Homo sapiens: one gene and its partner. The gene in region 1 interacts genetically with each later gene. Each region holds a gene or a part of one and is shown on either strand. Other genes may lie near its edges. The genes, in order: HECTD1 and NF2.

Region 1 (3,824 bases):
TAAAAAATTTGGTATAATTATCCTAATGTGTTTTAGGTGGGAATAAAGTTTATATTACTCAGTTGGCAAAATTTTTAAAGTACCTTCATTTTTGATTATTGAATAACTTTCAGTTGTAACTCTTGTTAAAACAGTACTAAGATAAAAATCCTTACTAATAAAATTTCCAAATTACAATTAGTTAGTGGTCCATTTATTTCCATTAGTTTTTGTCATTGGCAGAATTTTGAGTATGTAAGAATAACTTAGCCCTTAGTTGACACTTGTTTTAGCAGGATTTATAGTAAAGTAGATTTTTTAAAATTTATTTTTATTTTTTATTTTTTTCCTCATCCTGACTCTCAAGTTAAAAATTGCGTTCATAGATTTCATTAGAGGTAACCTGAAAGTTACTTTTGGTATTTTAAAAATCATACTTGTCAGTCAAGTCAATTGTCATTTCGTAGCTTCTGTTTAGTACTAATATGTAGTAGAAGTATTTGTTATGACATTTAAAAAAGTGTTGCCCGATCATTAAAAAGTCAGGAAACAACAGGTGCTGGAGAGGATGTGGAGAAATAGGAACACTTTTACACTGTTGGTGGGACTGACTGTAAACTAGTTCAACCATTGTGGAAAACAGTGTGGCGATTCCTCAAGGATCTAGAACTAGAAATACCGTTTGACCCAGCAATCCCATTACTGGGTATATACCCAAAGGATTATAATAATCATGCTGCTATAAAGACACATGCACACGTATGTTTATTGTGTCACTATTCACAATAGCAAAGACTTGGAACCAACCCAAATGTCGATCGATGATAGACTGGATTAAGCAAACGTGGCACATATACACCATGGAATACTATGCAGCCATAAAAAATGATGAGTTCATGTCCTTTGTAGGGACATGGATGGAGCTGGAAACCATCATTCTCAGCAAGCTATCGCAAGGACAAAACACCAAATGCATGTTCTCACTCATAGGTGGGAATTGAACAATGAGAACACTTGGACACAGGAAGGGGAACATCACACACCGGGGGCTGTTGTGGGGTAGGGGGAGGGGGGAGGGATAGCATTAGGAGATATACCTAATGTAAATGACAAGTTAATGGGTGCAGCACACCAATATGGCACATGTATACATATGTAACAAACCTGCACGTTGAGCACATGTACCCTAAAACTTAAAGTATAATAAAAAAAAAAAGTGTTGCCATGTTAAAACAATTTAAATGAAATTTTTAAAACATAAAATTTATCTCTATGTAAAATCCTTCCATCCTAACATAACAGCTGTTATTTTTTCCATTTTCCTTTCTAGGCTTTATTCATATATAGTATGATGTAATTTTTAAGAGACTGGGGCCTCACTATGTTGCCCAGTCTGGCCTCGAGCTCCTGGGTTCAAGCGATTCTCCTGCCTCGGCCTCTTCAGTAGCTGGGACTATAGGCTGTGCCACCACACCTGGCTTTATAATGTAATTTTAAGGAAATGAACCTAAAGTTAAGTCAGATATGATTTACTATATGAAGATACAAGAGTATTTCAAGTTGAAGGGGTTAGCCGTGTTTGGGGTAGTGTACCAGTAACCTCCAAAAACTAGACATTTGGTTTAATTTTGTGACTGTTTTGTTTTTAAACATTAGTTTGCTTTTCATTCTATAGCCAGATTTTCTTGTTGTTACAAGGGAAAATTGTCCTGGTTCCTTCTTGAAACTAGTGAGGGAGGCATAGTGAGATGGAAAGAATGGGCTGTGGCATCAGAGACTTGGGTTCAGATTCTTGGTCTGTTGTGTTCATTAGCCTCTGAGAGCCTTACTTTCTTCCCCTGTAAAATGGCAGTAGTCTTTTTTTCTTTTCTGTTTTTTCATATGAAGTCTTGCTCTGTTGCCCAGGCTGGAGTGCAGTGGTGCGATCTTGGTTCACTGCAACCTCCGCCTCCCAGGTTCAAGTGATTCTCCTGCTTCAGCCTCCCGAGTAGCTGGGACAACAGGTGCGTGCCACCATACCTGGCTAATTTTTGTATTTTTAGTAGAGATGGGGTTTCACCATGTTGACCAGGATGGTCTCCATCTCTTGATCTCCTGATCCACCTGCCTTAGCCTCCCAAAGTGCTGGGGTTACAGGTGTGAGCCACCATGCCCAGCCAGTAGTCTTTTTTCCAGTGGGCCTTCTTGTGAGGATTAAAGGAGAGAATGTATGTTAAGTGTTTTGAGTAAAGTGGGCTACCCACTGATGCCATCATTAATAAATATCTAATTTTGAATTTTATTTTAGCACTTTATTCCATGAATAAAGTGATTGATTTGGAAAGGTCTTTTAAAATTCTTTTAAACAATCAACTCCCAGCAGGCAAAAAAAGCAAGATGATGTGCATATTTTGAATATTGGTAAAAATCTTTCATACTACCTTGATTTCATAAAGTAGTAGCAAATAGGACTTAGTTCTGTCTAATAAACCAAAACATGCCTGTATGTCCTGATAATATGTTTGCTTAATTAGCTTGTCTTAATAGTTTCACATCTGTTTAGTCAGGAAAGGCAGGTGGTGTGGTAGAAACAGTGGCCTCTGCAATGGGATAGACTTGGGTTCAGATACCTGCCTTTTCCACTGAATAGTTGTGTGATAGCCTTTGAAGTCTGTTTCCTCATCCTTGCAGGATTTTTCTGAAAATAAATGGGATAATAGTCAAGGATTTCTTTTTCCTTTAACTTAGTATTGTACATGGCTCTCCACTTTTTTTTTTTTTTTTTTTTGAGGCAGAGTCTCGCTCTGTCACCCAGGCTGGAGCGCAGTGCTATTTTAGCCATGCCCAGCTAATTTTTGTATTTTTAGTAGAAACGAGGTTTCACTGTGTTAGCCAGGATGGTCTCAATCTCCTGACCTTGTGATCCACCCATCTCAGCCTCCCAAAGTGCCGGAATTACAGGCGTGAGCCACCGCGCCCGGCCGGCTCTCCACTGTTTGTACCCATTTTGACAGTGTCTTTCTGAAGTTCAACGAATATAACTTCTTCTATGATGTGTCAGTGCTTCTTATTAATGCCTGAACTTATCAAGGTAATGCTCCAGAAAGTAAAACACGTTCAAGATTCGTTTTTGCTTTTACCTGATGTATCGAGTTCTAAAATGTAGTAATGTAAACATGGCCGGGTGCGGTGGCTCATGCCTGTAATCCCAGCACTTTGGGAGGCTGAAGTGGGCAGATCACTTGAGGTCAGGAGTTCAAGACCAGCCTGGCAAACATGGTGAAACCCCATCTCAACTAAAAATACAAAATTTAGCTGAGCACTGTGGCATGTGCCTGTAATCCCAGCTACTTGGGAGGCTGAGGCAGGAGAATCTCTTGAACCTGGGAGCCGGAGGTTGCAGTGAACCAAGATTGTGCCATTGCACTCCAGCCTCGGTGACAGAGTGAGACCGTGCCTCCAAAAAAAAAAAAAAAAGTAAGTAATAGTAATATGAGTTATTAGCTAATGAGCATTTTGTATTCACATCAAAATAGGTGATCATCATATGTATTAATGTTATAAATATGTATTATGGGCATTTCTAGATCTTGCTACTAAATCTGAATATAATTTGAAAGTTATGTCCTCTGGAAATTGAGCATCTCAGAAGATGCTTTTAGGTGCTAGTAGGCTTTATTTAAAAAATAATGATGTCACTTAATTTTGAGGGCACAAAAGGATATACAGTAAAAAGTCCGTTGTCTTCCCTTTCCTGTCTCCTGGTTACTTGGTTCCTCTTCCCAGAGGAAACCACTGTTAATCATTTCCTAGTGTATCCTTCAAGAGATATCCAAGGAACATTGTTTTGAGTCTGGATTCCAAAG
Region 2 (3,824 bases), on another chromosome or scaffold:
TTCCTAGAGTGAGGGTATTTCTCAGAGAGAATCTTTCCAGGGTCCTTCCCCACAGCTCCAGAGCCTTGGCTCCGGGATTTTGCCTCAGGAGAGAAGCAGGCCCTAAAACAGATAGCTCCTAATCTCTTTCCAATGGCAGTGACTTCATTTGCAACACAGTGTGGAGAAATTCATGCCTAAGGGCAATCTGGAGATGTGAAGGTTTTGGTAAGAGGCAACTGGGAGATCTGCGGATTTAATGGAGATGCAGCCTAGACTGTAGGCCTCCTGGTTTGCTGGAAAGAATTGGGGAATAAGACAGCTGGAAGAAGCCATTCTAGGATCAGAAGAAGGATCAAACATTGACCGCAGCATGGTGGCTCACGCCTGTAATCCCAGCACTTTGGGAGGCTGAGGCAGGCAGATCATCTGAGGTCGGGAGTTTGAGACCAGCTTGACCAATATGGTGAACCCCATCTCTACTAAAAATACAAAAATTAGCTGGGCATGGGGGCATACACTTGTAATCCCAGCTACTTGGGAGGCTGAAGCAGGAAAATCACGTGAACTGGGAGGTGGAAGTTGCAGTGAGCCAAGATCACGCCACTGCACTCCAGCCTGGGTGACAGTGAAGCTCTGTCCTGTCACAAAACAAAACATTGACCACAGACCTCTGAGGTGGTGGATGTCCCTCCTGTCCTGGTTGTATCATTATACATTGTATATTAATGTATCGAAATACTACAGGTACCCCCAACATGTGTACAACTATTATGAATCAATAAAAAACAATTTGAAAAGTAAGGTATGTGGCAGAGGTGGAAAAAAATGCTTTCCTCCAAACAGCCACAATTTGATTGTATCAGTTTGTAGAGTAAGAGCAAGTTATGCCTCAGTGTGTTGTTGAAAATAATAGAACAATATGCCACAATTAGTGGAGCTTCATAGCTGGGTGTGGTCAAGGAGAGAATAGAAGAGAACCCTACCAAAACCACTGTCATCCCAGGGTGACTGTGAGCATACCCAAAGCTGCACCTCCCTGAAGAGCAATATCATAGGCCTTAACACTTTTCAGGGGAAATGGATTTCACTCAAATAATCCAGCCAGTCGCTAAACAAATAAATAACAATTGGCCCTGGAGAGGGGGTACCAATCCCCAGAGTTGCTACAGTATATTATCTAAAATGTCCAGTTTCCAACAAGAAATTGTGAGACGTACAAAGAAACAGGAAAATATGACACATACACTGGAAAAAAGCTGGCAGCAGCAACTGCCTGTGAGACAAGGGGCCAAATTAATGAAAAAGGCTTCAAACTGGCCTATATATATATTCACAGTACTATATATATTCACAATACTAAAGGAAAATATGATGACAAAGAAGTAAAGGATGGTATGACACTGTTGCATCAATTAAAGAATATCCATAAAGATATAGAAATTATAAAAAAAGAATCAAATGAAAATTCTGGAGTTGAAAGTACAATAACAGCTGGGCGCGGTGGCTCACACCTGTAATCCCAGCACTTTGGGAGGCTGAGGCGGGCGGATCACCTGAGGTCGGGAGTTCGAGACCAGCCTGACCAACATGGTAAAACCCCGTCTCTGCTAAAAATACAAAAATTAGCCAGGCGTGGTGGCCGGCACCTGTAGTCCCAGCTACGCGGGAGGCTGAGGCAGGAGAATTCCTTGAACCTGGGAGGCGGAGGTTGCAGTGAGCCAAGATCGAGCCACTGCACACCAGCCTGGGCAACAGAGCAAGACTCTGTCTCAAAAAAAAAAAAAAAAAAAAAAAAAGTACAATAACAAATTTAAAAATTAACTAGAGGGACTCAGGACTCAATAACAGATTTGAACTGGGTGAAGAAAGAATTCGTTAATTTTTTTTTTCTTTTTGAGACAGAGTCTCGCTCTGTTGCCTAGGCTGGAGTGCAGTGGGGCAATCTCGGCTCACTGCAACCTCTGCCTCCCTGGTTCAAGCGATTCTCCTGCCTCAGCCACCGCACAGTGGCTTTGGGAGTACTCTGGGAGGCTGAGGTGGGTGGATCACCTGAGGTCAGGAGTTCAAGACCAGCCTGGCCAACATGGTGAAACCCCATCTCTACAAAAATACAAAAATTTAGTTGGGCATGATGGCGGGTGCCTGTAACCCCAGCTACTTGGGAGGTTGAGGCGGGAGAATTGCTTGAACCCGGGAGGCGGAGGTTGTAGTGAGCAGAGATCGTGCCACTGCCCTCCAACCTGGGTGACAGAGCGAGACTCCATCCCTGCCCTGAAAAAAAAAAAAAAGATGTGAAACACATACAAAAAAAAGTAAAATGGCAGTTGAATGCCAAGTAATTAGATAACTTCAATAAAATGGACAAACTCCTAGAAAGATATAAACCACCAAAATTGACCCAAGAAGAGACACTATCTGAATAGACCTATAACAAGTAAAGATATTAAATTAGTAATTGAGGGGACTCGTGGGGTAACTTGCCCTTGGGAACCAGTAGTATGGCATCGGGCTGCAAGATTGGCCTGTCCATCCTCAATGCTACCTGGCCAATTTAGGGGCCCAGTGCCTCTGGATGCTAGACTCTGGGGTCGATTATCTCCACCGGAATGTAATGGATGAACATGCATGTGATGGTGTCCAAGCCAGAACAGTGGGTAAAGCCAATGGCTATAAGAGGAGCCAATCAGTACATCTTTCATCTCGAGGAAACTGAGAACCCAGGGGCTTTGATTAAAGACATTCAGGAGAATGGGATGAAGGTTGGCCTTGCCATAAAACCAGGAACCTCAGTTCAGTATTTGGCACCATGGGCTAATCAACTAGGTATGACCTTGGTTATGACAGTGGAACCAGGGTTTGGAGGGCATAAATTCATGGAAGATATGATGTTAAAGGTTCACTGGTTGAGGATCCAGTTCCCATCTTTGGCTATAGAGGTCGCTGGTGGAATAGATCCTGACACTGTCCATAGGTGTGCAGAGGCGAAGCTAACATGATTGTGTCTGGCAGTGCTATGGTGAGGAGTGAAGACCCTAGATCTGTGATCAGCCTGTTAAGAAACATTTGCTCAGAAGCTGCTCAGAAAGATTCTCTTGATTGATGAAACCTTAAGGAGCCCAATGTTTGTTTATGAAATCTCCTTTTTACTGGAAAACAGGAATATTGACTACCAAATCATAGTGTAGTTGAAGCCATTCTGCGTTTTTGAGCAGTTATTCGTTTCAGTGATTATAATTGATTGTGCAGAGTATTCTAAGAAGTTAGAAATTGGTGTGTATAACTACATTTTCAGTGATGCAATTTAATGATTAGTGAGTGAGATACTGTTTTTATTGAGAGCCTTGATTTTTATAAAGAGTAAAAATATGGCTGCATTAAGGGTACAAACAGAAAAGTGTCTTAATGTCTAAGGAGGGCATATTAGCTACACTATAAAAACAATTTTTTTCTGTATTTCTGAAAAGAATTTTGTTGTTTCTCAGTTGTTTTCCAAAAGCAAAGGAAGTCTTAATGTTTTTTTCTATTTCGTGTTATGTGTGATTTGTTTATATGCTTGGTAATATGAGTCTAATGGAATTTAAAAATATAAGTTTGGGTAGGATAGTATACCCTTAAAAAATAAATAAATAATTAGAGAGAGAGAGAGAGAGAGAGACCTGGGCACAGTGGCTGTTGCCTGTAATCTCAGCACTTTGGGAGGTCAAGGCAGGAGGATCCTTTGAGGCCAGGAGCTTGAGACCAACCTGGGCAACATAGAGAGACCCCAACTCTAAAATATACATACTATATCTAAACTCAGCTAGGCGTGGTGGTGTGAGCCTGGAGTCCCAGCTACTCAGGAG

What was found.
Region 2: changes in HECTD1 (region 1) and NF2 together harm fitness more than expected from each alone (negative genetic interaction), as found in Homo sapiens cells (one large-scale study listed by BioGRID).

What each region holds. Positions count from the first base shown.
Region 1 is NC_000014.9:31,201,122-31,204,945, reverse strand, and holds part of HECTD1 (E3 ubiquitin-protein ligase HECTD1), read left to right. Parts: intron 1-3,824. UniProt on the Homo sapiens protein: E3 ubiquitin-protein ligase which accepts ubiquitin from an E2 ubiquitin-conjugating enzyme in the form of a thioester and then directly transfers the ubiquitin to targeted substrates.
Region 2 is NC_000022.11:29,606,420-29,610,243, forward strand, and holds part of NF2 (merlin), read left to right. Parts: intron 1-3,824. UniProt on the Homo sapiens protein: Probable regulator of the Hippo/SWH (Sav/Wts/Hpo) signaling pathway, a signaling pathway that plays a pivotal role in tumor suppression by restricting proliferation and promoting apoptosis.